Regions from separate parts of the Homo sapiens genome. Here all the other regions are linked to region 4. The links come from fine-mapping of genetic effects on gene expression. A gene starts in region 4. Each other region holds a variant in brackets. All regions are shown on one strand. Distances are from middle to middle.

Region 1 (8,139 bases), 200 kb before region 4:
CGTTGGCCAGGCTGGTCTTGAATTTCTGGCCTCAAGTGATCCGCCTGCCTTTGCCTCCCAAAGTGCTTTGATTACAGGCATGAGCCACCGCACCCAGCCCCATCTTGTCACCATTTTAAATAACCTTCATTTATTTATCTGATCTTAGGGACTCAGGTGATAATGTGGCTCCCCTTCCTGGGTGAAAGCCTCACTATCCTTGCCCACTTTGGGTCCACTTTGGGTGATGAACCAGGTATGTGCTTGAGCCCCCTTGTACAGTGGGAGCCAGGTCTACCCTCAGGGCACAATTAACAGCTTCTTCTTTTCAAGTCTGTGTTCACTTAAAAAGTTTGAGACCCTGCCAGCCATCTTCGGCCAAGTCTACTTGACCCATTGTCAGTTAAAAAATGTGAGAGTTGGTCCAGGATGAGGCTAAATACAATGTGATTGAGAATGTTCCCTGCATGAATAGAGGCCATAAAGTCTCTTCAGGAAAAAATCAGAACTGGCACATACTCCAAGGCAATTTTCTCTAGGATACCTCTCAGCCCATGTAGCACTCTCAGTCCAGAAGCAAAGCTAATCCAGCATAAGAGGTATTGCTGTCAATCACCCTAAAGAGGAGCGGTCCAGAGAGGACCAGGATGATGGAGGGATTCAGGAGTAACCAAGAAAAAAAAAAAAAGAACACTTCAGATTGCCTCATGTGTTTAAACATCTTAGGAGATTTATACTTAGTTCCAGAGTTTGAAAATTAAATAGTGATGGTTACCTAAGAAATGGAACAAAACAAAGGCAATTATTGACAGAAAACAAAAAATTGTATCATATAAAAAATCACAACGCACTATATGGCTCATCTGGGAATAATATTTACATGGTTCTAATAATGTTAACATTGAGTATTGATCTTAGGCTGGCATGTGTTTTTATCCCCAGTATTTCCAGTTGCTGATGTCTTCCTCAAGAACACTCAAATACTAGGCGGGGCGCAGTGGCTCACGCCTGTAATCCCAGCACTTTGGGAGGCCGAGGTGGGTGGATCACCTGATGTCAGGAGTTCAAGACCAGCCTGACAAACATAGTGAAACCCCCTCTCTGCTAAAAATACAAAAATTAGCTGGGCGTGGTGGTGCACACCTGTAATCCCAGCTACTCAGGAGGCTGAGGCAGGAGAATCGCTTGAACCCAGGAGGTGGAGGTTGCAGTGAGCCAAGATCACACCACTGCACTCCAGCCTGGGCGACAGAGCAAGACTGTGTCTCAAAAAAAAAAAAAAAAAAAAAGAATACTCGAATACCATTTAGCACTTGCTGATGTTTCTCATCGAGAAATTATGTAGGCTGGCCATTCATTCTTCCCACCACCCTATGAGTCACCATGATCCTTTAACTAATGTCATAATTGGTGAAAAAAGTCTCGATTGGTGCTTTCTTTCTAAAAGGGAACTCATCCTTATATCAAAATGCATCCACTCCAGGATGGGGCGTCAGCCCATGAAGTGGGACGGCTATACTTCACACTGGGACACCCTGTGGTGTCCGTGATTGTGACTAAGTTCTGGATATGGACAACCCTGAAACATCCAGCTTTTGGAAGTGGGCTCTCCCACAGTAAAATGGACAGGAGTGGGGTGGGTGGGTGGGTGGCGTGATGTCTTCTCATCAGGATTATTTTTAACTGGGCCTTTAGGAACCTGAAAGAACCATATCAACGTTCTCTTACCACATGTGTTAGTTTCCTATGGCTGCTGTAACAGGTACTAACTTTGTGTCTTACAACACAGTTAATGATTTTATAGTTCCGAAGAAGTCTGAAATCTGTTCACCACCTTACAGTCAGGGAGGCAGCAGGGCTGTACTTGCCTGGAGGCTCTGAGGGGAGAAGTCATTTCTTTGTCTTCTCAGCTTCTAGAGGCTGTCCATTCCTTGGTGATGGCCCCTTTCATCTTCAAAGCCAACGCTGGCCTCCCTCTGACTCTGCTTCTGCTGTCAGTCCCTTCTGTGACTCTGACACTCCCACCCCTCTCGTATAAGGACCCTTGTGATGACACTGGGGGCACCCACTGGATAATCTCCCCATCTCAACATCCTTGGTTTAATCACATCTGCCAAGTCCCTTTTGCCATGTGGGATAACATTCTCCAGTTCAGTAGATTAAGACATGAACATCTTTGAGGGGCCATTTTTCTGCCTACCACACCAGGGGCTCCAGGTAGTGGGTCTGGTTGGGGGAGGTTGAAGGGGTTGGGATCAAATGGAGGGGCTATGACCACTACCTTCTCATTCTAAGTTAGAAAAATATTTAGGGTCCTTGGCCAAGGGTTTCCTTCATAGCCTGTCCTCCCAAATAGCTCCAAGCCAGGTGTCTGGATGTCATCCACACCCACCTGTGCCCTCACTTGACAAAGAGATTTGTTTAGACTTGCAATTTCACCATCTCCACAGATCTGCGGTTCTCAAAATAAATTTCTAGAGCTGCAACTCAGCCTGTTTAGCTAGCACGTCATGGAGAGTCCTGCAGTGTCTTGGGGGATAGAGATATTTAATTTGGCCCTGGCGTGTGACACCTTCTCCTTCTTACCTCCTTCCTCCTGGCCCCCAAGCTTGCATTTACTATGGCTTGTGGAGAGTTAAGAATCCCACTATCCTATCCTACTCGTGAATTGCTTGACATCAGGGCATCCTGTGCTACCAGAGCTAGATCCTTGGCAGTGCTGGGATAGCCTCAGGGTCCCCAGGGCCTGTGGCCCCACTTTGGGATGGGAAGGCAAAGAGCCCCGGGGAAGAGAGCCATGAAACCTTCCCTGCTCCCTTTCCAGGCAGAGGCCCGCCTCCCTCCTGACTTGGCTTCTTTTTCTGCATTCTCATTTGGCGTTTGACTAGTCACGTCTCTCTGTGGCAGATCAACGTGGGGACTCCCTGATGCTGGGAGAAATTTTACATTTTAAATCGCTGAGGCCCCAGGGTGATGGGAGAGCTCAGACTTCCTTCAGCTGGCACCTCTGCTACAGGAGGGATCCTGGTCCTGGGAGACAATTTTGTACCAGAGAGCACCTGGGTGGGGAGAAGGCAAAGAAGACTTGCCCTAGAGTGAAGTTTGAGGTGTTGGATACCATACTGTATTGTTTTGTTTCTGAATTAGGTTGTCTATTCCTGGCTTTAAGAGTGTAGAAAAACTCCCTGATTTTCGAGAGATTGTGAAAATTTTACCCACTGAATTGATTTAAAGAGACAGTAGAAAACAAAATAAAACTGCATTTTGATTACGTGCCATAAGTCAGGTATGCTTTGTTCAACACACCCAATACATTAATTTCCTATATGAGGGCTCAATATAAATAAATTTGCCTGCCTGCAGATTCACTAAGTGTTCTCTAACATATCATTTCTGTTAATGCTCTTTTATTTTTATTTATTTATTTATTTGGAGACGGAGTCTCACTCTGTCACCCAGGTTGGAGTGCAGTGGCGCGATCTCAGCTCACTGCAACCTCCACCTCCCAGGTTCAAGTGATTCTTCTGCCTCAGCCTCCCAAGTAGCTGAGATTGCAGGCGCCCATCACCATGCCTGGCTAATTTTTGTATTTTTAGTACAGACGGGGTTTCACCATGTTGGCCAGGCTGCTCTCGACCTCCTAACCTCAGATGATCCACCCGCCTCGGCCTCCCAAAGTGCTGGGATTACAGGCATGAGCCACTGTGCCCAGCCCCTTTTATTTTTTTATTACTATTTTATTTATTTATTTAAGACACAGTCTTGCTCTGCCGCCCAGGCTGGAGTGCAGTGGCACAATCTCAGCTCACTACAACTTCCGCCTCCCAAATTCAAGCAATTCTTGTGCCTCAGTCACCCAAGAAGCTGGGACTACAGGCATGAACCACCACGCCCAGCTAATTTTTATATTTTTAATAGAGATGAGGTTTTGCCATGTTGGCCAGGCTGGTCTCAAACTCCTGGCTTCAAGTGATCTGCCCACCTTGGCCTCCCAAAATACTGGGATTACAGGCATGAACCACTGCGCCTGGCCTTTTTTTTTACTATTAAAAAAAATTGTTTTAGAGACAAGGTCTTGCTGTTACTCAGGTTGGTCTTGAACTCCTGGCCTCAAGTGATCTTTCTGCCTCAGCCTCCCAAGTAGCTGGAATTACAGGCACTAGCCACTGCACCTGGCTTATTAACCCCTTTTAAAATTTCCCCATTGTATGCCTGTTGGGAAATGTACCGGAAACCTAATTCAAGTGTCCTCCCTTTCCAAATAGCACCCCCTCTTCCAGGCCACTTGATCACTTCAGTGGGGGACAAGGAGTAGACTGGAAGCTGGAAGGATTTCCTCCTCGCGAAACAATTGGCCAGTG[T/C]GGAAGGCCAGACCATCTGGGCCCAGCACAGAGGCTGCTTTCTTCCAAGAGGAATGCTGAGCACAGAAACACCCTGACCCTTGGCTGTTCCAATCCCTGTTAGGATCCTCTGTTCCGGGGCCCTGGAGTAGGACCTGCAGGTCAGTCCTGTTCTGTGACTGCTGACAGGACCCTGCGTCCTGATGGCTGCTTGGTCTCTTCAGACTGGGGCCTGGCATAATTTCCCTCTGCCCACCTCAGCCTGGATCACTGGCAAGGGAGCAGAGAGACTCTTGAGTAGGTCACTACTTGGACAACTGGCAGGACTGGGGTAGTCATCTCTTATTCAGTGGGCACTGCTGGGGGTCAGGCATTGTACTGGGTGCAGCACACCTCAGGTACTTTCACAGAACATTCTCAGCTGTCTCATGAGGTAGATGTTACCATCCCCATTTTGTAAGGAGACTAAAGTCCTGTCTCCATCAGGGAAGACAGGATGGCGTACTCAGAAGGTTTAATTGAAAAGAGTTTAAGGAATGGACTATTTACAAAGGTGTGGGCAGAATTAAGGGGGCTAACAAGCGATGACGGAGCCCCCAGGGGTTAGTAGCAGCTGGAAGCCATGATCACCCCCAGGCCTAAAGGGGAAGAGAAGGCAAGTCACCCCTACCAGACAAGAGCTGGGATCAGGGAGAGTGTGGGAGCACTGCAGAACCACCAGAGGGAAGGTGGCAGTGGGGAATGAACACCCTCCCGTCACCTCTGCTACCACTGCTTTCCAATGCCCAAACTCAGCTGAAAGCCAGAGGCCCAGGGCGCCTGGTGCCACAGCCCACAGAGCTCAGCCTCCCGAGAGGCCCAGGGACACTAGACGGCGCATGTCCTGAGAAATAATCTGACCAGAAGTCCTGTGCTGAGATTTAAACGCTAGTTTTCCTGAAGCCACTGCTGTCCTTCCTCCCATTGTCTACACTATCAAAAATAGCAGCTAGAAGTCAAAAAGAAAAAGAGATGGACAAGGAAATTAAAGTTCAGCTCATAGACCAGTGGCATCCAAAGTGTATTCTGAGGTACACTAGGCTCTTTTGTTGCCACATAGTTTGACAAAGGCTTTATTTCATATCTCCCAGTTGGAGCTCCGAAATGTGTTTTAGCATATTGAAGACTCTGAGATGTAATTAAGCCTAACTAATTTTCATTCTTTTCTTCAACTTAATTGACCATGAAAACTTTTTCCATTCATATAATATCATGGAGACTTTGTATTCTTTGAAACACGCTTGGGGAAGTACTGCTGTGAGCAATGGGGTTTGATGCAGGGAAAGGCTGAAGATAAATTTCGCTGCAGTGTAGCAGGTGGGTTTGAAGAGGGCAATGAGGGAGACAGGCAGATCAAGCAGAAGGCTCCTCCAGTAATCCAGGCAAGAGATGAGAAAGGCTGGAGCCTGGGAAGCAGCAAGAGGAGGGAGAAGAAGAGCCAATTCCTCCTTGGTAATGGGGCGAATGGTGAGTCATTATGCAATGGGCCGATCTGGAGGAGAATCAGACAGAGGCTGTGAGATATTCAGGCCAGTTTTTGACACATTGAGCATAAGGTGCTTTGGTATAAACAGATTTTTTAGTTGGAAATTGGGGGTGCAAGATTAGAGTTTTGGCAAATGGTTGCTGCTCAAGGTACACATTTGAAAGCCATCAACATATGGGTGATGATGGAAGCCCTGGGGGTGGTTGGCACCCCCCCAGCTGAGAAAGTAGAGCAGAGGGTCTAACTTGGCTTGAGGGTGTGAAGAAACTCCTGAAATTACTTAGGGTATTATGTGTCCATGAATATAGGCATTTTTACTTATTTATTTTAGGGATGACTCTCTCATAGCTTCTAGCATGTTTTCAAAGGTGTCCTTGAAAAAATAAGTTTAAGAACCAGTGGTGAAGAATGAGAAGAGAGGAAGATCAAGGGTAAAGTCTGCAAGAAGAGTAATCAAATAAGTCTGACACCTTTGAGCCAGAGGGGTTGGAGCAATGCAGGATGCAGGGGCCGCAGGATCCAGAGCAGAAGGAAGGATCAGCAATTTCCCGTGATCCGAGAGTCGAGTATGATTAGGTCTAGAGATAAGCCTTTGGATTTGGCAATTAGAAAGTCATTGCCTTGTCAAGAGCAGTGTCAATTTTGGGTGGAGGAGATTATAGAGGATGGAATAGTGAGTGGCTTGGGAAGAAGCTGTTGGTGTGAGAAGAGACCAAGTCCTTCAAGAGGCTTGTGGTCAGGCTGGGCACAGTGGCTCACACCTGTAATCCTGGTGCTCTGGAAGGCTGAGGTGGGAGGATCACTTGAGGCCAGGAGTTCACGACCAGCATAAGCAACACAGAGAGACCTCATCTCTACAAAAAAAATTTAAAAGTAGCTGGACAGCTGAGGTGGGAGGATCACTTTAGCCCTGGAGTTCGGGGCTACAGTAAGCTATGATCTTGCTCAATGTGTACCTTGAGCAGCAACCATTTTCTAAAACTCTAATCTTGCACCACCAATTTCCGACTAAAAAATCTCTGTTTATACCAAAGCACCTTATGCTCAATGTGTCAAAAACTGGCCTGAATATCTCACAGCCTCTGTCTGATTCTCCTCCAGATCAGCCCACTCCAGCCTGGGTGACAGAGTGAGATCCTGTCTATAAATAAAAAATTAAATAAGATGCTTGTGGTCAAAGCAGGACTAGGATTAGGTGTTTATACTGGTTTGAAATTGAGAGCAATAAAAGTTTGATATTCAGGACCCACCCCTGAAGACACTGTTTTTAAAGGGAAAATTATAACCTACATACTGAAAGACAAAATGTATCTAGGTGCATTTGGGCAGGTATAACAAACTAGCATAGACTGGGGGCTTATAAACAAAAGAAATTTATTTCTCATAGTTCTGGAGGCTGGAAAGTCTAAGATCAAGATGCCGGCAGATTTGGTGTCTGCTGAGACCTTGCTTCATGGTTCATAAATGGTCATCTTTTCACTGTGTCCTCAAATGGTGGAAGGGTAAGGGAGTTCTCTGGAGCCTTCTTTTAAAAATAAAAGGCACAATCCTATTCATGAGGATTCCACCCTCATGACTTAATCACCTCCCAAAGGCCCATCACCTCATACCAAAACCTTGGGAATTAGGTTTCAACGTATGAATTTTGGGGGGCCACAAACATCTAGTCTATAATACTGGGAAAATAAAATATATGATTCATGAAAGTTATCAACACACACACAAAAGCAGCAAGCAGATCTGGGGAGAAGAGGCTGAATAAGGATAAATGTTGAGGAGCAGAATTGATAGGACTTGCATTGAAATTGGATTTAAAAGAAGGAGAGGAGTTAGGGCTGACTTGTAGACTTTCGACTTGAGCCAGCTGGGTGAAGGGTGGTGTCTTTTACAGGGTTGAGAAAGACTGGGAGAAGAGCAGGTGAGGAGCGGAAAGCAAGATTTCTATTCCAGATGTCTTAAATCATGTGACACGTCAGAGTCCTATCAGATGCCCAAGTGGAGAGGTTAAGATAGAGATAGAGTCTGGAGCTGGGGGAGAGGATAAAGTTGGAGATAGAATTTGGGAGTCATTGTATGTGGATGGCATTTGAGCTATGGGCCTAGATGAGTTCACCTTGAAAATGAGTATAGGTAGAGGAGATGCCCAAAGACTGAGATTTAAGCACTCCTGCATTTAGAGGTTTAGAGGGAGGAGAAGGAAACTGCACTTGGCCAAATACAAGACAAAGTGATCTTCTACACTCAGGAAGAACACACTGGGAGAGGTTGCTTTCTGAGTACAGTACTCCTGAGTCT
Region 2 (8,139 bases), 27 kb before region 4:
GGTGGTGCACGCCTATAATCCCAGCTACTCGGGAGGCAGAGGTTGCAGTGAGCAGAGATTGTGCCATTGCACGCTAGCCTGGGCAACAAGAGTGAAACTCTATCTCAAAAAAAAAAAAAAAAAAGAATAATACACAAGATCAAGTGGAGTTTATTCCAGAAATTGAAGAATCAAAGATGGTGCTATATTAAGAAATTTTGGGCCACACGCAGTGGCTCACGCCTGTAATCTGGCACTTTGGGAGGCCAAGGCGGGCAGATCACTTGAGGTCAGGAGTTTGAGACCAGTCTGGCCAACATAGCGAAACCCTGTCTCTACATTAAAAAAAAAAAAAAAAAAAAACTTAGCTGAGTGTGGTAGCGGGTGTCTGTAATCCTAGCTACTTGAGAGGCTGAGGCAGGAGAATCACTCGAACCGAGACAGAGGTTGCAATGAGCTAAGATCGCATCACTGGACTCCAGCCTGGAGGACCGAGTGAGACTCCGTCTCAAAAAAAAAGAAAGAAATTTTGTAATGTAATTATTAAGTCAAAAGAGAAACTATATATATAATCACCTTTATTAATGTTGAAAATACATTTAGTCTGGGAGTGATGGCTCACACCTGTAATCTCAGCACTTTGGGAGACCAAGGTGGGCGGATCACTTGAGGTCAGGAGTTCAAGACCAGCATGGTCAACATGGCGAAACCTCATCTTTACTAAAAATACAAAAATTAGCCTGGCATGATGGGATGCGCCTGTAATTCCAGCTACTAGGGAGGCTGAGGCCCGAGAATCGCTTGAACCCAAGAGGCAGAGATTGCAGTGAGCCGAGATTACACCACTACACTCCAGCCTTGGTGACAGAGTGAGACCTTGTCTCAAAAAACCAAAAAAAAAAAAAAACAACGAAAATACCTTTTGGCCAGGCGTGGTGTCTCACGCCTGTAATCCCAGCAGTTTGGGAGGCCGAGGTGGGCAGATCACTTGAGGTCACGAGTTCGAGATCAGCCTGTCCAATGTGGTGAAACCCTCTCTCTACTAAAAATACAAAAATCCATCATGGCTAACACGGTGAAACCCTGACTCTACTAAAAATACAAAAAATTAGCTGGGCGTGGTGGGGTGCATCTATAGTTCCAGCTACTCAGGACGCTGAGGCAGGAGAATCGCTTGAACCCGGGAGGCAGAGGTTGCAGTGAGCCAAGATCACGCCACTGCACTCCAGCCTGGGTGACAGAGCGAGACTCCGTCTCAAAATACATACAAAAATTAGCCAGGTGTGGTGGCAGGCGCCTGTAATCCCAGCTATTTGGGAGGCTGAGGCAGGAGAATTGCTTGAACCTGGGAGATGGAGGTTGCAGTGAGCCGAGATCGCGCCACTGCACTCCAGCCTGGGTGACAGTGCAAGACTTTGTCTCAAAAAAAAAAAAAAAGAAAATACATTTCACAGCTGGGCGCGGTGGCTCACGCCTGTAATCCCAGCACTTTGGGAGGCCGAGGCGGGCGAATCGCCTGAGGTCAGGAGTTTGAGACCACCCTGGCCAGCGTGGTGAAACCCCGTCTCTACCAAAAATACAAAAATTAGCTGGGCATGGTGGCAGGTGCCTATAATCCCAGCTACTCGGGAAGCTGAGGCAGGAGAATCGCTTGAACCCGGGAGGCGGAGGTTGCAGTGAGCCGAGATTGCACCACTGCACTCCAGCCTGGGTGACAGAGCGAGGCTCTGTCTCAAAAAAAAAAAAAAAACAAAAAAAAACCCCAGAAAATACATTTAAATAAAATTTCTATACCCATTCCTAGTAAACTTCTCTCTTAGTCACCTCAGGCTGCTTTAAGAATGTATCATAGACTGGGTGGCTTAAACAACAGGCTGTTATTTTCTCACCATTCTGGAGGCTGGAAGTCTGAAATCAGGGTGCCAACATGGTGAGGTTCTGGTGGGGCCGTCTTCTTGGCTTGCAGACAGCTGACATCTCACTGTATGGTCACATGGCCTTTCTTTGGTGTGTGCTCATAAAGACAGAGCTCTCTGTCCCTCCTCTTATAAGGAAACTAATCCACTGCAAGGCGTCCACTATCATGGCCTGATCTAAACCTAAGTACTTCTCAAAGGCCCCACCTTCAAATACCATCACATTGGAGGTTAGGGCTACAGCATATGAATTTCGAGGGGACACAAACATTCAGTCCATAACAATCTCTTAATACATATTTACGGGTAGTTCTTTATCTTACTCTTTTATATTGATTCTTCTAAATAGAGACAGAGTCTCACTATGTTGCCCAGGCAAGTCTCAAACTCCTGCGGTCAAGTAATCTCCCAACGTTGGCCTCCCAGAGTGCTGGGATTACAGGCGTGAGCCACCGTGCCTGGCCACCTTTATTCTCTTTTTACCTCTAACAAAAAGTAAATAAAAGTAGCCGGGCGCAGTGGCTCATGCCCGTAATCCTAGCACTTTGGGAGGCCAAGGCAAGTGAATCCCTTGAACCCAGGAGTTCGAGACCAGCCTGGGCAACATGACAAAACCTCATCTCTACAACAAGTACAAAAATTACCTGGGGGTGATGGCGCACACCTGTAGTTTCAGCTACTTGGGAGGCTGAGGTGGGAGGATTGCTTAAGCCTGGGGAGGCGGAGGTAGTTGTGAGCCAAGATCGTGCCACTGCACTCCAGCCTGGGTGACAGAGCCAGACCCTGTCTCAAAATAAATAAATAAATAAATAAATAAAAGTTAAAAGAATTAGTTTGTATTTTCTATTTAATTAAAGATAAAAAGGGCTGGTTTGTATCTTTTTCTTGGAGTCTTATTTTTCCCCTTAAATTTTAACTATCATCATCTTGTCTGATGTCTGTCTTCTCATTTAATTCCATTTTTGTAACTTTTAAAAATAAATGAGGCCGGGCACAGTGGCTCATGCCTGTAATCCCAGCACTTTGGGAGGCAGAGGCGAGTGGACTGCCTGAGGTCAGGAGCTTGAGACCAGCCTGACCAACATGGTGAACCCCTGTCTCTACTAAAAATACAAAAAAAAAATTAGCTGGGCATGGTGGTGGGCGCCTGTAATCCCAGCTACTCAGGAGGCTGAGGCAGGAGAATTGCTTGAACCTGGGAGGCAGAGGTTGCAGTGAGCCAAGATCATGCAACTGTACTCCAGCCTGGGCGACAGAGTGAGACTCTGTCTCCAAAAAAAAAAAAAGGAAAAAAAAAATAAACCCCAAGCAGATATAATAAAGGACACTTCATACAAATGAATCAAAAATGAATTAAAGCCAATTAAAGAAAAAGTTGAAAACATGAAATTAGAGGGAATAAAAGATATGGTGGGTGAAATAGACCCAGTTCTTTAGCCCTGTAAAAAAATAAGATAAACCACATTTTTTTAACTTTTATTTTTTTTGGAGTCAGAGTCTCACTCTGTTGCCCAGGCTGGAGTGCA[G/C]TGGCATGATCCCGGCTCACTGCAACCTCCGCCTCCCAGATTCAAGCGATTCTCCTGCCTCAGCCTGAGTAGCTGGGATAACAAGTGTGCGTCACCATGCCCAGCTAATTTTGTATATTTAGTAGAGATGGGGTTTCACCATGTTAGCCAGGCGGATCTCGAACTCCCAACATAAGGTGATCTGCCTGCCTCCGTCTCCCAAAGTGTTGGGATTACAGGCGTAAGCCACCACGCCTGGCCTTATTTTTATGTTTTTGAGACAGGGTGTACTTCATCACCCAGACTGGAGTGGAGTGGTGTGATCACAGCTCACTGCAGCCTCGACCTCCTGGGCTCATACAATCCTCCTACCTCAGCCTCTCGAGTAGCTAGGACTACAGGCGCACATCACCACACCTGGCCAGATTTTGTAATGTATTGTGGAGACAGGGTCTCACTATATTGCCTAGGCTGGTCTTAAACTCCGGAGCTCAAGCAATCCTCCTGCTGCAGCCTCCCAAAGTGCTGGGATTATAAGCGTGAGCCCCCACGCCCAGCATAAAGCACATTTAAGGATACAAAATTCGGCCATGCGCCGTGGCTCATGCCTGTAATCCTAGCACTTTGGGAGGCCAAGGTGGGCAGATCACTTAAGGCCAGGAGTTTGAGACCAGCCTGGCCAACATGGTGAAACCCATCTCTACTAAAAATATAAAAATTAGCCAGGTGTGGTGGTGCATGCCTGTAATCCTAGCTACTCAAGAGGCTGAGGCAGGAGAATCATTTGAACCCAGGAGGCAGAGGTTGCAGTGAGCCAAGATTGTGCCATTGCACACCAGCCTGGGGGACAAGAGTGAAACTCCTTCTCAAAAAAAAAAGGCCGGGTGTGGTGGCTCACACCTGTAATCCCAGCACTTTGGGAGGCCAAGGCAGGCAGATCACGAGGTCAAGAGATCAAGACCATCCTGGCTAACACCGTGAAACCCCATCTCTACTAAAAATACAAAAAAAAATTAGCCGGGCGTGGTGGCAGGCGCCTGTAGTCCCAGCTGCTGGGGAGGCTGAGGCAGGAGAATGGCATGAACCCAGGAGGTGGAGCTTGCAGTGAGCCGAGATCATGCCACTGCACTCCAGCCTGGGCGACAGAGCAAGACTCTGCCTCAAAAAAAAAAAAAAAAAAAAGATACAAAATTAAAAGCCCAATTTGCATAGCTAGATGAGTGCAGTATGGTGGAAGTAATACAAACAGAGGTGTTCTAATCACACTAGAAGTCAACATTGAGCATCGCAAGGTACCATTTTTTTCTTCATTAAAATGTGTTTTAAATTATGCCCTTTGTTGACAGGAAGAGGTGAAAAGCCAGCTCTCTCAGTTGAGACAGTATAAATCACTAACTCTGTTTTTGAAAGTAATATGGATAATATGTAGCACAAGCCATAAAATGACCAGACCCTTTGGTCTATTAATTCCAGTCTTGCTAGCCTGTCCTACCATAAGGGTGGGGTGGAGAAGGAGGGTAGGACTAAATAAAGGAAATTCTTATTCATAAAAATTTACATTTGTATATATGGTGATTAGAAACAAAATGGCTGCAAGGTCCAATGGTTATTTTAGAGGAAAGATTTAATTTAAAAATTGGCCGGGCACAGTGGCTCACACCTGTAATCCCAACACTTTGGGAGGCCAAGTTGGACGGATCACCTGAGGTCAGGAGTTCGAGACCTGCTTGGCCAACATGGCAAAACCCCATCTCTACTAAAAATACAAAAAAAATTATCCAGCACCTGTGATCCCAGCTACTAGGGAGGCTGAGGCACAAGAATTGCTTGAACCCGGGAGGTGAAGGTTGCAATGAGTCGAGATCGCACCATTGCATTCAAGCCTGGACAACAGAGCGAGACTCTATCTCAAAACATAAATAAATAAATAATTGACTTTTAGCAGCTTTAATTGCTTATTATTATTATTTGAGATGGAGTCTCACTCTGTCGTCCAGGCTGGAGTGCAGTGGCACGATCTTGGCTCCCTGCCACCTCCACCTCCGGGTTTCAAGCGATTCTCCTGCCTCAGCTTCCCAAGTAGCTGGGATTATAGGCATGCACCACCACACCCGGCTAATTTTGTATTTTTAGTAGAGACAGGCTTTCTCCATGTTAGTCAGGCTTGTCTTAAACTCCCGACCTCAGGTGATCGGCCTCCCAAAGTGCTGGGACTATGCGCGCAAGCCACCATGCCCGGCCTACTTTTCATATTCTTATGCAAGTTAAGCAAATAATTGAAATATCCCTATTTGTTTATAGACTTGGGTCAGGATGTTGTATAATAACATCTCTAGACTTCTTCAATGTCTCATCTGAAGTGTGAGGCTCCTCAGTCCTCTTTCTCAGGTGTTCAGAGAACACAGTATTGTCCCTTTCATATAACTCAGAAGCCTTAACATTCTTTAATGTCTGGTTTTCCCACTAAGACCATAAACTCTATCAAGTCAAGGAAAGTCTTTCTTGGCATAAAAATATTTGGGCCACCGGTATTGAGTTCACATCCTCCATTGTTGCAGTGAAAGGAGAGATAGATGTCACAATCCCTAACAGCCTGGAGTTTTGCTGCCCTGTTTTTATACTACCATACAGAAAACTTAAATGTCTGCATACTGTCATTTAAAAGCTAATAATAGAGAAGTAAAAAATATGGATTTTTAAATATCTCTAAGCCCCAGCCATACTAAAGGAGAAATAATTCTCTGCATGAGTCAAGTCCTCTCTCCAGCCGGGCACGGTGGCTCACGCCTGTAATCCTAGCATTTTGGAAGGCTGAGGCAGATGGATCCCCTGAGGTCAAGAGTTTGAGACCAGCCTGGCCAACATAATGAAACCCCCTCTCTACTAAAAATACAAAAATTAACCAGGTGTAGTGGCGCATGCCTGTAATCCCAGCTACTCAGGAGGCTGAGGCAGGAGAATTGCTTGAACCCAAGGGGAGGCGGGGAGTGCGTAGGTTGCAGTGAGCCAAGATCGTGCCACTTCAGCCTGGGTGAAAGAGTGAAACTCCATCTCAAAAAACAAGTCCTCCTCTCTCCTCTAGGTTTTTTCAGGCTATTCTTTCTCTTTTTTTTTTTTTTTTTGAGACAGAGTCTCACTCTGTCGCCCAGGCTGGAGTGCAGGGGTGTGATCTCAGCTCACTGCAACTTCTGCCTCCTGGGTTCAAGCAGTTCTCCTGCCTCAGCCTGCCAGGTAGCTGGGACTACAGGCGCTCGCCACCATGCCCGACTAATTTTTGTATTTTTAGTAGAGATGGGGTTTTACCATGTTGGTCATGCAGGTCTTTAACTCCTGACTTCGTCATCCGCTCACCTCAGCCTCCCAAAGTGCTGGGATTACGGGTGTGAGCCACCACGCCCGGCAGGCTATTCTTTCTATCTGGAAGCCCTTTTTCCTGCCCTTGTTGAGCTAAGTCCTAGGATCCTTCAGGACTTGATTCAGTTATCACCTCCCTTAAGAAGTCTCCTTTCAGGCCAGGCGAGGTGGTTGCAAGAATTTGGTGATCTACAGGTACCCTCTAACTCTCTTCCTATGCTGCCTGGGACATGGCCGGGTGTAATGAGTGGCCCATGCCTGTAATCCTAGCACTTTGGGAGGCCAAGGCAGGTGGATCACTTGAGGTCAGGAGTTCGAGACCAGCCTGGCCAACATGGTGAAATCCCATCTCTACTAAAAATACAAAAGTTAGCCAGGCAGTATGGCGTGCGCCTGTAGTCCCAGTTACTGGGGAGGCTGGGGCAGAAGAATCCCTTGAACCTGGGAGGCGGAAGTTGCAGTCAGCCAAGATTTTGCCATTGCACTCTAGCCTGGGTGACAGAGCCAGACTCTATCTCAAGAAAAAAAAAAAAAAAAAAAGACAAGGACACGTGGGCTGGGAGCTTCTAAGTCCCTAGGATGTTTCTATTTCTTTACAAATCTGGTAGTAGATGGGGATGTAAAATGGTGTGGCTGCTGTAAAAAACCGTAAGGAGGTTCCTCAAAAAACTAAAAATAGGCTGGATGCAGTGACTCATGTCTGAAATCCCAGTACCTTGGGAAGCTGAGATGGGAGGATCACTTGAGCCCAGGAGGCCAAGGCTGCAGTGAGCTGTGATCATGCTACTACATAGCAGCCTTGGTGACAAAACAATACCCTGTTTAAAAAAAAAAAATTAAAAGTGGAATTACTATATGATCTGGTCTGGACAGGGTGGTTCATGCCTATAATCCCAGCACTTTGGGAGGCTGAGGCAGGTGGATCGCCTGAGGTCAGGAGTTCAAGACCAGCCTGACCAACATGGTGAAACCCCGTCTCTACTAAAAATACAAAAAAATTAGCTGGGCGTGGTGGCGCACACCTGTAATCCCAGCTACTCAGGAGGCTGAGGCAGGAGAATTGCTTGAACCTGGGAGGCGGAGGTTGCAGTCAGCTGAGATCATGCCATTGCACTCCAGTCTGGGCAACAAGAGTGAAATTCTGTCTCAAAAAATAAACAAACAAAACAAAACCATATGATCCAGCAATTCCATTTTGGGGCAAGAATTCAAAAAGATATTTACACATCCATGTTCATTACAGCATTATTCAAAATATCCAAGAGGTGAAAACCACAAAAACGTCCATCTAAAGGTGAGTACATGAAGATGTGGTATAAACATACAAAGGAATATTATGCAGCCTTTTTAAAAGAAGATTCTTTCACATGCTACAACATGGCTGA
Region 3 (8,000 bases), 76 kb before region 4:
ATTTCGAGGCTAGAACATTTAGAAGAAGTCTCAAGTGACAGCGTTAAGTTAAAATCAGAGATATTAGGCCTCATCGCCCTGTAATGCTTAATTAAATTTGTGCTTTTTTTTTTTAACTTGTCTTATGTCTCCCAGCCAAAGACCAGTCCTCTCAGGGGGATGAAGAGAAAGACCCTCCGAAGAGCCACCCTTATTCTGTGGAGACCCCATATGGCTTTCATTTAGACCTGGACTTCCTCAAGTATGTGGATGACATCGAGAAGGGAAACACTATCAAAAGAATTCCTATCCACAGAAGGGCCAAGCAGGCCAAATTTAGCACTCTGCCCCGAAACTTCAGCCTTCCTGACAGTGGGGCTCGCCCCCCTGCAGCCCCGCCCCTCCAAAACTGGTCTCCCGTGGTGCCAAGGGAGGCATCACTTGGGACACAGGAGCAAAACCAGTCACCACCGCTTGGTAATGCCCCCCAGGCCTCAACAAGCAGGAGTGAGGTGAGCTACCACAGGAAGGCTCTGTTGGCAGAGGCCACCAGACAGTTGGAAGCTGCTGAGCCAGAGGATGCCGAGCTCACTTTTGGGAGTGGACGGCCCCAGCTCTTGAGAGCATCCAGCATGCCTGCCACGCTGCTGCACAGCAGGGCTTCTGAGGAGCCAGGCCTGAGCCTGGGGCCCCCTGCCCCTCCTGCCCTCCCTCCCCTTCAGGGTGAAGGCAGTGTCTGTGATGGCACCTTTGAACCTGCAGAAGGATTGGCAGGTTTCCACAGCTCCAGCCCACGAGCATCAACTCGGATTCCAGAGCTGGTCCAGGAGGGAGCTGAGCCTCCAGAGGGTGTGGTGAAGGTTCCAAATCACCTCCCTCTCCCAGGCCCTCCTTTCTCATTCCAGAATGTGCTTGTAGTTCTAGAGGACAAGGAAGATGAACACAATGCCAGAGAAGCAGAGGTGTTGTTCACCCCTGGCTCCCCTACGCCAAGCCCGCCACCTCTGCCATCACCCATCCCTGAGAATGAGCTCCTCCTGGAAGAAATCGAGCTCAACATCAGCGAGATTCCACCCCCGCCACCTGTAGAGGTGGACATGAGAAGCATTGGCATCAGGGTAACTGAGGAAAGCCTGGGCCTTGCCAGGGTGGATCCAGGCAGCATCTCCAGCCTGAAACAGCAGGTCTCGGCCCTGGAGGGAGAGTTGTCTGGAAGAACCGAGGAACTGGCACAGGTCAGAACTGCTCTCCAGCAGCAGGAAGAGGAAATCAAAGCTAGGGAGCAAAGAATTCGAGAGCTGGAGTTCACTGTAGCCCAACTGGAAGGACAGTTTCACCAAGAGAACGCCAAAGACACTCAGGGCCAGACGGACGTGATGGTGAACACTGACCCTGTCCATGGACTCTTGACCAGGGAGTCGTGTGATAAGGGCATTGAAGTCAACCTTCTAGGCAGCATGGAGTCTGAAAGCTGGGGGCACCGAGGAGAGGAGAATGGCCTCCTATGGGGGCCAGATGGTCATAAACAAGGGAATCAGAGCCCAGCAGAACGTGTGCTTCTGCCCCAGCTGTCACTGCCACAGGGACCCGAGCAGGTCCTTACCTCCTCTGTACATAGCTTCCTCTCCACTGAACTCAGGATTGAAGAAGCAGGCACTGAACAGGAAGGAGGCCCTCAGGGAGGAACCAGGGGAGCAGGAGGCTTTCTGTGGGGCAGCGACAGAAAGACTCCCCCAGCAGGGAGGGAGGAGACCAGTTCCAATCTCCCAGGGAAGGAGCACCCGGGAAGGCCACCAAGCTCGCCAACGGATGCCACTATTGGGCAGTATGTGAAGAAGATCCAGGAGCTCCTGCAGGAGCAGTGGAACTGCCTGGAGCATGGGTACCCGGAGCTGGCCAGCGCCATCAAGCAGCCAGCCTCCAAGCTCAGCAGCATCCAGAGCCAGCTGCTGAGCTCCCTCAACCTGCTGCTGTCGGCCTACTCGGCCCAGGCTCACCCACCCAAGGAGCCACCGGCCTCCTCCTCCTCCCCGCCAGTGGGTAAATACCATCAATATAGGGGCCTGAGACAGGGAGCCATTTCTCCTTCACATGATAAGGCAGAGGGAACAAGGTTTTCAATTATATTAACATGTTTTTAAAAAGATTTTAGCAGCTGGGAGCAGTGGCTCAGGCCTGTAATCCCAGCACTTTGGGAGGCGGAGGTGGGAAGATCTCCTGAGATCAGGAGTTCAAGACCAGCCTGGTCAACATGGCGAAAACCCATCTCTACTAAAAATACAAAAATTAGCCGGGCATGGTGGCAGGAGCCTGTAATCCCAGCTACTTGGGAGGCTGAGGCAGGAGAATCACTTGAACCCAGGAGGCGGAGGTTGCAGTGAGCCGAGATCATACCACTGCACTCCAGCCTGGGTGACAGAGCAAGACTCCATCTCAAAAAAAAAAAAAAAGAAAAAAAGATTTTAGTACTTCCAGGAACCCAGTGGAATAAAAACTGATGTGTGTGACAGTGGAGGCTCGGGACCTCTACTCTTGCCTTTGCTCTAAGGTTGGGTCTGACTATGGGCCCACTGCCTACAGCTGTATGGATAGCACAGGGCACAAAGATGCCAGCCAGGGAGGGCAAATGAGAGTTGAAAGCCAGCCCACACTCCATTTGCCAAGCCTTGCGCTGCAGCACCACATCCACCCAGAGGGGGCTGTTCTCATTTGCATTGTGCAAAGGCAGTGTCTGGGGCCAAGAATGGCCCTGCTGCGTGGACTCCAGACCTCTTCCTGGGCTTTTGCATTCCTGTGTTCCTCTCTGGTTCTTGCATAGTAGAGGTTTTCTCTGGCCTGGTTTTGGAGGAGCATTATATTGATATCTGGTATAGTTCACTGAATATTTTCTCTGCGTGCATGTGTGTGTGTACGTGCATGTGTGTGTGTACAGGGGCAGGAGATTAAGTGCTGCTCACATATGGAAATGGGCCCTTCGGCTGAGCAGCACTTCCTGTTGTAACAGATCAAACCCTCTTCACTGTCGGGTAAAGTGGAACCACGTTTTGCTTTGCAGGGCAGCATGCGAGTCTGCTTCCTGCCACAAATCACAATTTGACTGCTTTCTCATTGTTTCAGTGCTAGTTCTAGCCTTCCCCGTTGGGAGCCGCCTCCTGTCCTGTTGAGCACATTGCAAGATCTGTGTCCTTGCTCGTGTATCTACTGTGAGCACGGTGTCATCACCACCCCCACAACCCTAGTGTCAGTATGCACTTGTGAGCCAGGAAGGACCACTGAGGTGCCCTTGAGCAGAAGTGGGTGCTAGACCATGAGTCCAGAGGCCTACGTTCTGCTCCTACACTCCCATTCACTGAGCAAGTCTGGGCCTCAGATTTCCCAGCTGTAAGACAGGGACAACAATGGCACCTACGCCACATGGTTCTTCATCCACACTTAGAGGGGCATTGTTAACAGAGACAGTTCTCCCAACATTGAGCAGAAAGCAAGGCTCCTCCAAGAGGTCCCCAAAACATTGATTTACATGATCTGGTTCCCTGTCCCTCCTTACCTCTCCACACACCTGCAACCCTTGTCCCCTCAAAGCAATATCCTGGTTTTGCTACATTCCCATGCATCCCCAAGATCATTCTAACCTGTGATGTTGTGTCTGCCTAGAGATCTCCCCATCGACCAGCCTTAAATCCATAATGAAAAAGAAAGACTATGGCTTCCGTGCAGGAGGTAATGGGACCAAAAAGAACCTTCAGTTTGTTGGGGTTAACGGTGGGTAAGCATCGCTTGTGAAGCTCAGACTGCCTTTCTTGCTACCTCTCCTGCTATTGTCCTTTGCACTCTCTTTTCCTAGGGGGAGGCATCTGGTTTTCATTCCTCTTCAAGGGAATTAATTTCAATGGCCCTTTAAAACTCCATCTCGGGTTTGCATGCGTTTGGCTTCTTGCCAGCTGTGGTGGTCTGTTGGAACCTCTGCTTTTAATATGTCTTGGCTTTGGTCTTCCCCAGGGCCAGGACTCCAGGTGGCTTCTGGGAGTTTTGGGGGTATACGGGCCCTTAGAGGAAGACATTTAACCTGAACCATAAAACTGAAACTAGTACAAATTCTGTTAATTCGTGGAACTTCAAATTTCATCCATTTAATTTTTTTCTTTCTTTAACTTCCTGCAAGCCAAACCCAAGTGTTTGGGGATGAAGAAAAACAACTAGACTATTGGCTTAGAACATGAACAAAACCTCATATATTCTATAGAATTGAATGTTTGATTTAGAATATTTTCTAAATCAGTCATTCAACAAACATTTATTAAATGCCAACAGTGTGCTCGGTCGTGGAGATTAAAAAGTCAAATAAATAAAGGTCTCTGCCTTTAGCTCACAGATAACAGAAATAAAGATGAAATGCTGATGTGCTGAGATAAGTTTTGTTAGGTGAGGAAGCACAGGATGCTGTGGAAGCCCAAACCCTGAAGGCTGCCCAGAGAGCTCAGAATCCCTGCTAATTTGAGTCACACCAGAAGGGAAGACATTAGACGCCAACAAGGGGAAACATCAGAAATGATGAACTGGGGCCAGTCGCTGTGGCTCATGCCTGTAATCCCAGCGCTTTGGGAGGCTCAGGTGGACAGATCACCTGAGGCCAGGATTTCAAGATCAGCCTGGCCAACATGGTGAAACCCCATCTCTACTAAAAATACAAAATTAGTTGGGTGTGGGGACATGCACCTG[C/T]AGTCCCAGCTACTCAGGAGGCTGAGGCAGGAGAATCGCTTGAATCCAGGAGGCAGAGGTTGCAGTGAGCCGCCGAGATTGTGCCACTGCATTCCATCCTGGGTGACAGAGCGAGACTCAGTCTTAAAAAAAAAAAAAGCAAAGCAAAGAAAAAAAATGATGAACTGGGTGTCACAGGAGGGTTGCTGTTCCCACTTCCACTAACATCTGACACGGGATCATGTGCTTTCACAGTTCATGTACAGAAAAGGAGAATCAGCCTAATCTCAAAGCCTAGTATAGGTCACGTCTCTCCCCAGCTGAAACGCCCCCAATGGTCCCCACTCTGCATCCAAATGTGGAAGAACCAAATCATGGCTCTGCCCAGCCTTAGCCCCTGCCACTGCCGTTCCTTCCCTCCCTCCAACAGGCTGAGGTCAGGCCCATCTCAGGGCCCTGGCACTTGCTGTTTCCCTGCTAAAGGCCTCCTCTCCTGGACATTCCTCAGCATTTGTTACTCCAGTACAGTGATTCTCAGCCTTGGTTGCACGCTGGAAACACCAGGGGAGCTTTTAAAACATCCCAGTGTCTGAATCCTTTCCCTGAACACTCTGGTTTAATTAGTCTTTGTGCAGTCCACATACTGGGAATTCTAAACACCCTCAAATGATTCTAATGTACCACTAAGGTTAGGAACTTCTGCTCTAATTAAAGTAGCCACTCCTCTTATCCTTCTATCCCATGGCTCTTTTTTTTTAAATTTTATTCATTGTTTTTATCACTACCTAAATATAATATTTGTTTACATGTTCATTTTCTGACTCTACCTTCTAGAATATAAGCTCCACTAGGGCAGGGACTTTGGTATAGGATTTAGAACTGCGCCTGGCATATAGTAGGTGCTCAATAAATTCCTGTTGAATGAATAAGTGAACTTCCAGGCAAAGTTTTTATGGAAGCAGTTCCAAGATGAGCACTGTTTGGTAAATGTAATATGCCCTCCACTCTCTTAATCACAAACATGAAAGGCTGTTCCATACATAATAGAGGAAGAAATGTCTGGGGTTTAAGTGAGACAGAATGCAAGCATAGCAGGGAGCAGACTCAGTTTACAAATCCATTGAGCACAGGGGCTTATGTAGAGGCCACCATTCAGAGAAGGGTCCTTAGGGGGTTCAATGGAGGCCATGGCCACCAGTCTCTGTGGCTGTGTCCAATGGCCCAAGAACCTGAAATCATCTTACCACCAGCATTCTCCATTAGGGATCTCCTGTTGAATATCAGTAGAGGAGTCAATAAATCTTCCAGGACTTTCCTCCATGGCCTCTGGTCTGCCAACTCAACAGAGTCACTTATAATTGAGCATAAGCGTCACTACCAGGAAAGAGGGCCACGAGTCAAGTGGCCTGTGCTCTCCTTTTTGCTGCTCCAAGCAATAGTTCAAACAGGCTGCAGCAAAGACAGGCAGGTGCTGTGCTGGGGTATCCCACAGAGCACTGGATGTAGGTGTGGAGGAGTTCATGCCTTGCCAAGTGCAAGCTGGGCTGGAGCAGTCTGAAGGGAGGTCTCGGTCTCATCCAGAGATGTGAAGATTTGCAGGCAACTTGGTGAATTCAGGGTGGAGGTGGGGATGTTTGGCTAGAGTTGGGCCCCTCTCCGGACCTAACGTTAGGATTGCACAAGCAAATGCTTTCATGAGAACGCTGGATGGCCTGTCTAGATCACCGAACGCATCAGCCAGTGAGGGGACAGGCTGCTCGTGGGTTTGCTGCAATGAGCACAGTTAATTATTTTGACAATAAGCACAGTTAATTGAGTCTCCCCAAATAGCCTCTCTGCACCAGAGCCAGGGCCCTTTACTGCATGTCTTTCTGACACCAAGATTCCTGGGAGCCTGTCACCCTGCCGGCAGGTGTAGAGAGTGGGGGAGGAGATTAGCAAGCTGCGGAGTGTTACCCGAGGCCCACCCAGCTCTCACTGGTGTTGACATGGGCACTGGGCAGGAAAGACAGGACGAGTGACCTTTGTTTTCTACCCCAGGTATGAGACCACCTCAAGTGAGGAGACCAGCGGTGAGGACAGCACCCCAGAGGACTTGTCTGACAGCGAGGCAGAGAAGAAGTGTGACGGCCCAGATCACAAGCATGTCAAAGATGCCCATCTCACCTGCGAGGCTGGGCAGGGCATCCCTGAGGGCACCTGCCATGCTGCCCAGGAAAGTGGGCCTGGGGAAGAAGTCCCCCACTCCAAGGCCGAGAGGTGAGCAAATGGACACAAACGCGGGCACTTGTTCCTCTGAAAAAGGTCAAGGGCATATATCTACCCGTTCATGCGATCATTTGTTCATTCATGTACCCATCCATTTGCCAGTGTTGTTTAAGTCTCTGTTTCATGCCCACACTGTGCACTGGTTGAATAAAGTAGATATATGGCTCCTGCTTTCGTGGAATGTACTGTCACAGCCGATATCTACCTGTAAAGTCAACATTTACCTAGTGCTGAAACTGTGAAGGACTTTACAAGTATTATCCTATATACACAACTTCCAACAGTCCTGCAGGACAGAAGTTATTGTGACCTCCCCACTCTACAGTTGTGGAAACAGAGACTTAGGGAAGTGTGGGGACGCAGCTAGCAGAATAGGGACCCTGGCCCCAGTCCTTCTCATTGTTACCCATAAGCTTTTCTGCCTGTCCTGTTGACCATGCTGGCTTTTAAAGTGATGTGTCTTTTTTTTTTTTTTTGAGACGGAGTCTTGCACTGTCACCCGGGCTGGAGTGAAGTGGCACGATCTCGGCTCACTGCAACCTCTGCCTCTTGGGTTCAAGTGAGTCTCCTGCCTCAGTCTCCTGAGTAGCTGGGACTACAGGTGCTCACCACCATCCTCAGCTATTTTTTTGTATTTTTTAGTAGAGACGAGGTTTCACTATGTTGGCCAGGCTGATCTTGAACACCTGACCTTGTGATCCACCCGCCTCAGCCTCCCAAAGTGCTGGGATTATAGGCATGAGCTACCGTGCCTGGCTGGTGATGTGTCTTTTAAAGTGATGGGAGCAGCCAGGCACCACAGCTTATAGCTGTAATCCCAGCAGTTTGGGAGGCTGAGATGGGAGGATCCCTTGAGGTTAGGAGTTTGAGCCCAGCAGTGCCCTTAAGCCTCACCTGAGGCCTCTTGGTGCTGAGCCTGCCTTCAGATCAACACAGGAAGAGTGCTTGTCACTGTGGACACCCAGCTTCAACGAGTCTCATATTACTGACTCTGTTAGTACTTACGGTGTCCTTCATGGAAGAATAACCTGAAGAAAGTTTCTGGTATGGATTGG
Region 4 (8,139 bases):
TGGGATTTATTATTTGTTGTTAACTGTATCAAATGCTGATTTTTTTTTTTTTTTGATACAAGAGTCTCACTCTGTGGATTAGGCTGGAGTGCAGTGGCACAATCTTGGCTCACTGCAAACTCTGCCTCCTGGGTTCAAGCGATTCTCCCGCCTCAGCCTCCTGAGTTGCTGGGACAACAGGCACACGCCACCATGCCCGGCTAATTTTTGTATTTTTAGTAGAGACGGGGTTTCACCATGTTGGCCAGGCTGGTTTCAAACTCCTGACCTCAGGTGATCCACCTGCCTCAGCCTCCCAAAGTGCTGAGATTACAAACATGAGCCACTGCTCCCAGCCTCAAATGCTAAATGCTAAATTATGATTAGCGTTTAATGACAATAAATATATGTGACCTTTTTCACATCCAAGATATCAGATACTCTGAATTCTAGCCAGACACTACCCAGGCACTCTGGGTTCAAAATCCCTGATCAAGAAGAAAGCAGAGGCTGGTACAAGTTTAGCAAATTTTGTCTCAGGGTTGGATGGTAGCCATCAAAAGGGCTCAGGGACCAGACGTCCTGGCTTCTGCCTGCAGTCCCAGCTACTTGGGAGGCTGAGGCGGTCAGATTATTTGAGCCCAGGAGTTCAAGGTTACTCTAAGCTATGATTGCATCACTGCATTCCAGCCTGGGTGACAGAGCAAGACCCTGCCAAAAAAAAAAAAGTGATTAGGGAGACCGGAGATTTTCACCAGTGTACTCCCAAGTTCTGCTTTGTATTTTAAGGAGGTTACTTTAAAAGTATACAATACAGGAGAGCACCGGTTGGAAAGGGCAAGAAATGTTTAGCACTTCCCTCAAGGGACTGGGGGTTGGGAGGGCGGATAAACTTCCTTTAATTTTAGGGATGGAAAAAAGCTTGTTGATTTGCATTGCCTTGGCTTGTGACTGCCATCTTTTCATATGTTTATCTGCTTGCATTTCCTTTGTGGTGTATTACCTTTTCAACACTGGCAGCCTGTTCTTATCGGCGGGGTGGGGCGGCGGCGGGGGGTCGGTGTGTGTGTTTTTCTGAATTTGCTGGGGGGATTATGGACTTCTCTTTTCTTCTTTTTTTTTTTTTTAAATAAGAACAATTACTAGTCCCTCACCTCAGTCTCTATTATCTGACCTCTGAGGCCACCCAAAGTTTGGTGTGGTATCTCTCACAACGTACAGGTGACTTTTGTGTTTTTGCTTTTTTTTTTGAGATCTCACTCTCGCCCAGCGTGGCAAGCAGTGGTGTGATCACTGTTCGCTGGTCACAAACTCCAGGGACCAAGTGATCCTCTCACCTCAGTCTCCTGAGGAGCTGGTATTACAGGCATGCTACCATACCAAGATAAAGTGCCTGGTTTTTATGGGTGCATGGGAGGACAATAAAGGAGAATGCCAACTTCGACTTCTAGTTAGTACGTCTCTCTCCTTGGGTATGGGGACATTTACTTTTTTTTAATAGCTTTATACTTTTAACACTATTTTCTTTTTTTCAATAGGCCATTTGTAATCTTCCAGTTATATATGCACACCTCACTCTTCTATGTGTGACATGCCATATTTTGAACATATTTTGGTTCAATAAGTAATTCCCTCAGCAGTGGGCATTCAAGTAATTTACAGGGTTTTGTTTTGTTTTGTTTTGTTTTCTTCTGTTTTTGAGACAGAGTCTCACTGTCGCCCAGGCTGAAGTGCAGGTGGCACAATCTCAGCTCACTGCAACCCCCGCTTCCCAGGTTCAAGTGATTCTCCTGCCTCAGCCTCCCGAGTAGCTGGGACTACAAGCGTGCACCACTGCACCCAGCTAATTTTTGTATTTTTAGGGATGGGGCTTCACCATGTTGGCCAGGCTGGTCTCCAGCTCCAGACCTCAGGTGATCCGCCCACCTCGGCCTCCCAAAGTGCTGGGCTGGGTGCGGTGGCTCAAGCCTGTAATCCCAGCACCTTTCGGGGCAGCAGGAGCACTTGAGGCCAGGAATTTGAGACCAGCCTGTGCAACATAGCAAAACCATCTCTAAAAAACTTTTTTAGATAATAAAAAATTTGGAATATATGAGCTTCTTAACCTACTACTAAACAAGATTGAGTAGCAGGACTAAACTATATATATATATATATATATATATATATATATATAATTTATTTTTTTTGAGAGGGCGTCTCACTCTTGCCCAGGCTGGAGTGAAATGGCAGGATCTCGGCTCACTGCAACCTCCACCTCCCAGGTTCAAGCGATTCTCCTGCCTCAGCCTCCCACGTAGCTGGGACTACAGGAGCGTGCCACCATGCCCAGCTAATTTTGGTACTTTTTAGTAGAGATGGGGTTTCGCCATGTTGGCCAGACTGGTCTCGAACTGCTGACCTTAAGTGATCTGGCCTCCTCAACCTCCCAAAGTGCTGGGATTACAGGTGTGAGCCACCACACCTGGCCCTACCTTTTAATCTTGAAGTAGTGAGAATGCAAAACCTGCAACAACTGTTATGTGAAACAAAATGTGGTTTCTAGCGATGACGAACTGTGGGTTCTGCTAATAGCACCAGACTGCAAAAGGGTCCTGACCCACACTAGATTATAAGTAGGGCTCATTTCTTTATCAGACCCAAGGTCATTTCCCTTGTTTCACTCTAAAATACCCCTCCCCAGTCCAGGCGCAGTGACTCACGCCTGTAATCCCATCACTTTAGGAGATGGAGGTGGAAGGATCACCTGAGGTCAGGAGCTCGAGACCACCCTGGCCGAATGGCAAAACCCCGTCTCTACTAAAAATACAAAAATTAGCCGGGTATAATGGCAGGCGCCTGTAATCCCAGCTACTTGGGAGGCTGAGGGAGTAGAATCGCTTGAACCCAGGAGGCGTAGGTTGCAGTGAGCGGAGATGGCACCATTGCACTCCAGCCTGGGCGACAAGAGCGAAACTCCGTCTCAAAAAATGAAATACCCCACCCCAACCCCACCCGCACACTTACCCGCCACTAATCCTACCCCTAATCCACTAAACTACTTACCAAGTCTCAGCAGTTCATCCGCCTCTGTACCTTCGCTGGGAAGACGAACTCCGCAGAGCAGGACTCGGGTCTACTCTAAGCTGTGCCTTGGTGCCTAGAATTCAAGTCAAGTTCATAACACCAAAGTTTAAGGTTTATTTAATGTAGAAAATCACCTTATATTGAAGACTGGGAAAAAAAAGCACTTATCTATGCATGTGTTTGCTTAAAAAGGCACACACAATTAGCAGAGTCTGGGGTGTAAGTCGGGAGAGGGCTGCAGGGAATGGGAGGACCCAGAGGTGGATCTGAGGAGGCCAGGGAGGGGCCGGAGAGAATGGTTTCTTCTTTGTGAGAGTTGGGGTCTATTATTATGGAAGGCACGCTTTCCTTTTGCAATTTGAACAAGAATTCGATTTGCCTAACAATCGGAGGAAATTGAAGAAAATGCAAAAGTTATTACTTCCAAATCAATTTTTCCAGTCACATAATTAAACACTTTTTTTTTTTTTTGAGACGGAGTTTCGCTCTGCCGCCCAGGCTGGAGTGTAGTGGCCCGATCTCGGCTCACTGCAACCTCCGCCTCCCCGGTTCAAGCGATTCTCCTGCCTCGGCCTCCCTAGTAGCTGGGACTACAGGCGCGAGCCAACACACCCGGCTAATTTTGTATTTTTGGTAGAGACGGGGTTTCCCAAGTTGGCCAGGATGGTCTCGATCTCCTGACCTCGTGATCCGCCCCCGCCTCGGCCTCCCAAAGTGCTGGAAAATAACACGCCCGGCCCTCCATCTTTTTTTATTTGAGACAGTTTCGCCCCTGTTGCCCAGTCTGGAGCGCAATGGCGCGATCTCGTCTCAGTGCAACCTCTGCCTCTCGGGTTCAAGCGATTCTCCTGCCTCAGCCTCCTGAGTAGCTAGGATTACAGGCATGCGCCACCACGCCTGGCTAATTTTGTATTTTTAGTAGAGACGAGGTTTCTCCATGTTGGTCAGGATGGTCTCGAACTCCGACCTCAGGTGATCCGCCCGCCTCGGCTTCCCAAAGTGCTGGGATTACAGGCGTGAGCCACTGCTCCCGGCCCCTCCATCCTTTTTCTAAAGCTAGGACTTGTCAAGCACCACCTCATTTTCTTGACTTTATTTTTTCTTCACAGAACTACTTTCATGTTTCCAATTTGGGGATAGATAAGTCTTAGGAGAGTTTTTTTCTCATTGCGCCACGGACAGTAAGGGAAAGAGCAGGGAGTCAAGTGAGGGGGCCAACTGCCTGCCCCTACCCGGGCCCCACGCACGCACCCGGATCAGCCTTGCCTGGGGCACCTCGGGCCTCACGTACCTGGGCCAGCCTTACCCGGGGCACCCCGCGCCCTTCGCGCCTGGACCAGCCTTATCCGGGGCACCCTGGACCTCACGCTCCTGGACCAGCCTTACTTGGGGCGCTGCGGACCCCACGCGCCTAGACCAGCCTTACCCGGGGCACCCCGGACCCCACGCCCCTGGACCAGCCTTACCCGGGGCACCCCGGACCCCACGCGCCTGGCCCAGCCTTACCCGGCGCGCCCCGGACCCCACGCGCCTGGGCCAGCCTTACCCAGGGCACGCCGGGCCCCATGCACCCGGGCCAGCCTTACCTGGCGAAAAAGGAATCCGCCTGGACGACTGAGGAGCGAACAAAGTGAGGATGGAGCCTTGTAACTAAGGACTGAGAGGATTCCCGATCTCTGGGGCTGGCTCCTCCCCTCCTGGTGTGTCCCAACCCCCTCTGTCTACATACCCGCGCCTCCTCCCCGGAAATCGCATTCCGCCCTAAGCAATTGCTGACTTCCATTGCTGCCCCCCGACTGAGTCCAATTCCCTCTGTCTCCACCGTGCCTCCGCTTGAACGAGCCCCACCCCTCAGACCCGACTCCAGACTCAAATCTGAATAAAGGCACCACTAAAGCGCCTCATCACCCAGGCCTGAACCCCAAGGTCACCTCATTCCTTTTCTTCAACCCTCGCAGTTAATCCATTCCTAAGTCCTTGAATTTGCCGGCGTCTCTCCAACTCCACAGCTCCAGCCCAGTCCAAGCCCCCGTTGTCTCTCACCTGGATCACTGAAATCACCTCCAACTGCTCCCTGGCCTCTCCCACGACCCCTCTGTAATCCTTCTCCCCCTCCAATACTGTTCAGTGGCTTCCTGTTTCGGTTAAATTTCTACCTTCTCATTCTATCCGGACTGCCCCTTCAACATTGTCTTAGCACTACTCTTACAACAGAAACACTCTCTTTCTGTTCCTCAAAAAACACGGAACTACCTGCCTCAGGGCCCTTGCACTGGCTGTTTCCTCTGCGAGTTATTTTTTTCTTTTTCTTTCTTTCTTTCTTTCTTTTTTTTTTTTTTTGAGACAGTCTCTGTTGCCACAGCTGGAGTGCAGTGGCATGATCTTGGCTCACTGCAACCCCGGCCTCCTGGGTTCAAGCAATTCTCCTGCCTTAGCCTCCCAAGTAGCTGGGATTACAGGAGCACGCCACCACTCCCGGAAAATTTTTGTATTTTTTTTTTTTCTTTTTGAGACAGAGTTTTCTTATGTCACCCAGGCTGGAGTGCAGTGGCGCAATCTCGGCTCACTGCAACCTCTGCCTCCTGGATTCAAGCGATTTCTCCTGCCTCAGCCTCCTGAGTAGCTGAGATTACAGGCCCATGCCACCACGCCTGGCTAGTTTTTGTATTTTTAGTAGAGGGGGGTTTCACCATGTTGGTCAGGCTGGTCTTGAACTTCTGACCTGGTGATCCGCCCACCTCAGCTTCCCAAAGTGATGGGATTACAGGCGTGCGCCACCACGCCTGGCCACCTCTTTATTTTCCCAGTTCTTTCAGGATGGCTTCTGTTCATCCTCAGGTCTCAGGTCCAATGTTAACTCCTCTAACAGGCCTCCCAGACTACCCTTTCTACAGGAGCCAAACTCCCCATATCCCAATACTCTTTTTTTGTTTTATTTTTGTTTCTTAAGAGAGGGTCTTGCTCTCTAACAGAGACTCAAAGGTTCTGGGTGGTTGGACTCCCCAGGCCTGACTTGCAAGGCTCAGGTGGAACTTGACTTGCCCAAAGTCATGCAGCTAATAAGCAAAGAAGCCTCAATATCTGGTAGTTCAGTCAATACACAGCATATGAATAAACAAAGAGAATTCGGTCTTTTGCTTTTAATCCCTTATTTCTTCTTACTGCCTAAAATCCCAGCACTTTGGGAGGCTGAGGTGGGAGGATCACTTGTTCATAGTTTAAAACAAAGATGATAACAGCCCTTTCCCGAAACAAACCCTGGGGATTTAGACTGCCTTTGCAGTACTAACAAATTAGCCACAGGATTAGAAATTATGGTTTAGGAGTCATGCAGCTGGAGGCTACAAGACTCTGACTCTCCCCAAATGGCTTCTGGGGATAAGACCACTACTGCAAAACCTAAGACCAGGGAGATATTCCACAGATATTTTGCAGATCCTGCACTTGACGGATCAGCTGGTACCACCCAGATCAATAAACTGGCTGATATGATCTTGGTGGCCCCCACCCAGGAATTGATTCAGCGCAAGAAGACAGCTTTGACTCCCTATGATTTCATCTCTGATCTGACCAATCAGCACTCCCAGCTCACTGGCTTCCCCCCTCCCACCAAGTTGTCCTTAAAAACTCTGATCCCTGAATGCTTGGGGAGATTGATTTGAGTAATAAAACTCTGGTCTCCCACACAGCCCACTCTGTGTGAATTACTCTTTCTCTATTGCAATTCCCCTGTCTTGATAAATGGGCTCTGTGTAGGCAGTGGGCAAGGTGAACCCATTGGGCAGTTACAATCACACCACTACACTCCAGCCTGGGTGACAGAGCAAGACCTTGTCTAAAAAAAAAAAAAAAAAAAACTGGGCAAGGTGGCTCAAGCCTGTAATCCCAGCACTTTGGGAGTCCAAGGCAGGTGGATCACCTGAGGTCAGGAGTTTAAGACCTGAGGTAAGCCTGGCCAATATGGTGAAACCCCATCTCTTATAAAAGTACAAATATTAGCCAGGCGTTGTGGTGTGTGCCTGTAATCCCAGCTACTCAGGAGGTTGAGGCAGGCGAATCGCTTGAACCTGGGAAACGGAGGTTGCAGTGAGCTGAGATCGTGCCACTGCACTCCAGCCTGGGTGACAGAGCAAGACCCTGTCTCAAACAAACAAAAAAAACGAAAATTTGAACACTGACTGGATATTTGATGATATTAAGAATAACTGTTGGGCTGGGCGCGGTGGCTCACGCCTGTAATCCCAGCACTTTGGGAGGCCGAGGCGGGGCGGATCACGAGGTCAGGAGATCGAGACCATCCTGGCTAAAACGGTGAAACCCCGTCTCTACTAAAAAATACAAAAAAATTAGCCGGGCGTGGTGGCCGGCGCCTGTAGTCCCAGCTACTCCGGAGGCTGAGGCAGGAGAATGGCGTGATCCCGGGAGGTGGGGCTTGCAGTGAGCCGAGATCATGACACTGCACTCCGGCGTGGGCGACAGAGCGAGACTCCGTCTCGAAAAAGAAAAAGAATAACTGTTAATTTCAGTGTAATAAGATTACTGTGATTAGATTTTTTAAAGGTTAAAGCCTTCTGTTACTTAAGATCACGTGTTCTTGGGCTCTCAGTGCAATAGAAATTGACATGAGGCTGAAGGAGTGTTCCCATACAAGGCTTGTTAGAGCTTATGCACAGACATAACGGAGAGGACTACCTGACTAACTCTGCTTTATTAGACAATCAGGGGTAGAGTATGCAGGTTGGGCTGGGCAAAGCACATGAGGGGTAGAGTATGCGGGTCAGCCTTATCTGGTTTTGATGGCTTTATTGAGTAATGGATCACCCACCTGGTGGTCTGGCGAACAGCAACAAGGCTGTAAATCAATTGTTCAGCATTTCTTCCTGAGGTGGGACACTCCACAACCTTAGTTTAATATTTAGATTTCCTAAAGCCAGTTCCCGGAATTCTTTTAAGTAAAAGGCAAGGTTAAACATTATGGGCGGGGTGCGGTGGCTCACGCCTGTAATCCCAGCACTTTGGGAGGCGGAGGCGGGCAGATCACGAGCTCAGAAGATCGAGAACATCCTGGTTAACACGGTGAAACCCCGTCTCTAC

Evidence for each region. PIP is the estimated chance that this variant, and not a neighbour inherited with it, causes the effect.
Region 1: its variant is fine-mapped to the expression of L1TD1 in tibial nerve (GTEx, PIP 0.97).
Region 2: its variant is fine-mapped to the expression of L1TD1 in whole blood (INTERVAL, PIP above 0.99).
Region 3: its variant is fine-mapped to the expression of L1TD1 in blood mononuclear cells (TOPMed, PIP above 0.99).

The regions. Positions count from the first base shown.
Region 1 is chr1:62,391,792-62,399,930 of GRCh38, reverse strand. No RefSeq gene overlaps it. Among named protein-coding and RNA genes, the nearest start is that of USP1, 41 kb to the left of the region's middle. The variant T/C (reference allele first, on the strand shown) is at 4,341.
Region 2 is chr1:62,218,120-62,226,258 of GRCh38, reverse strand. No RefSeq gene overlaps it. Among named protein-coding and RNA genes, the nearest start is that of L1TD1, 27 kb to the right of the region's middle. The variant G/C (reference allele first, on the strand shown) is at 3,422.
Region 3 is chr1:62,267,223-62,275,222 of GRCh38, reverse strand. It overlaps KANK4 (KN motif and ankyrin repeat domains 4), which reads left to right. Exons shown (of 10, transcript NM_181712.5): 3 at 136-2,019; 4 at 3,634-3,745; 5 at 6,718-6,936. Among named protein-coding and RNA genes, the nearest start is that of KANK4, 48 kb to the left of the region's middle. RefSeq lists an enhancer at 6,647-7,147. The variant C/T (reference allele first, on the strand shown) is at 4,699.
Region 4 is chr1:62,191,414-62,199,552 of GRCh38, reverse strand. It overlaps L1TD1 (LINE1 type transposase domain containing 1), which reads right to left and starts at 4,704. Exons shown (of 4, transcript NM_019079.5): 1 at 4,632-4,704; 2 at 3,025-3,118. RefSeq lists enhancers at 3,849-4,704, 4,705-5,561.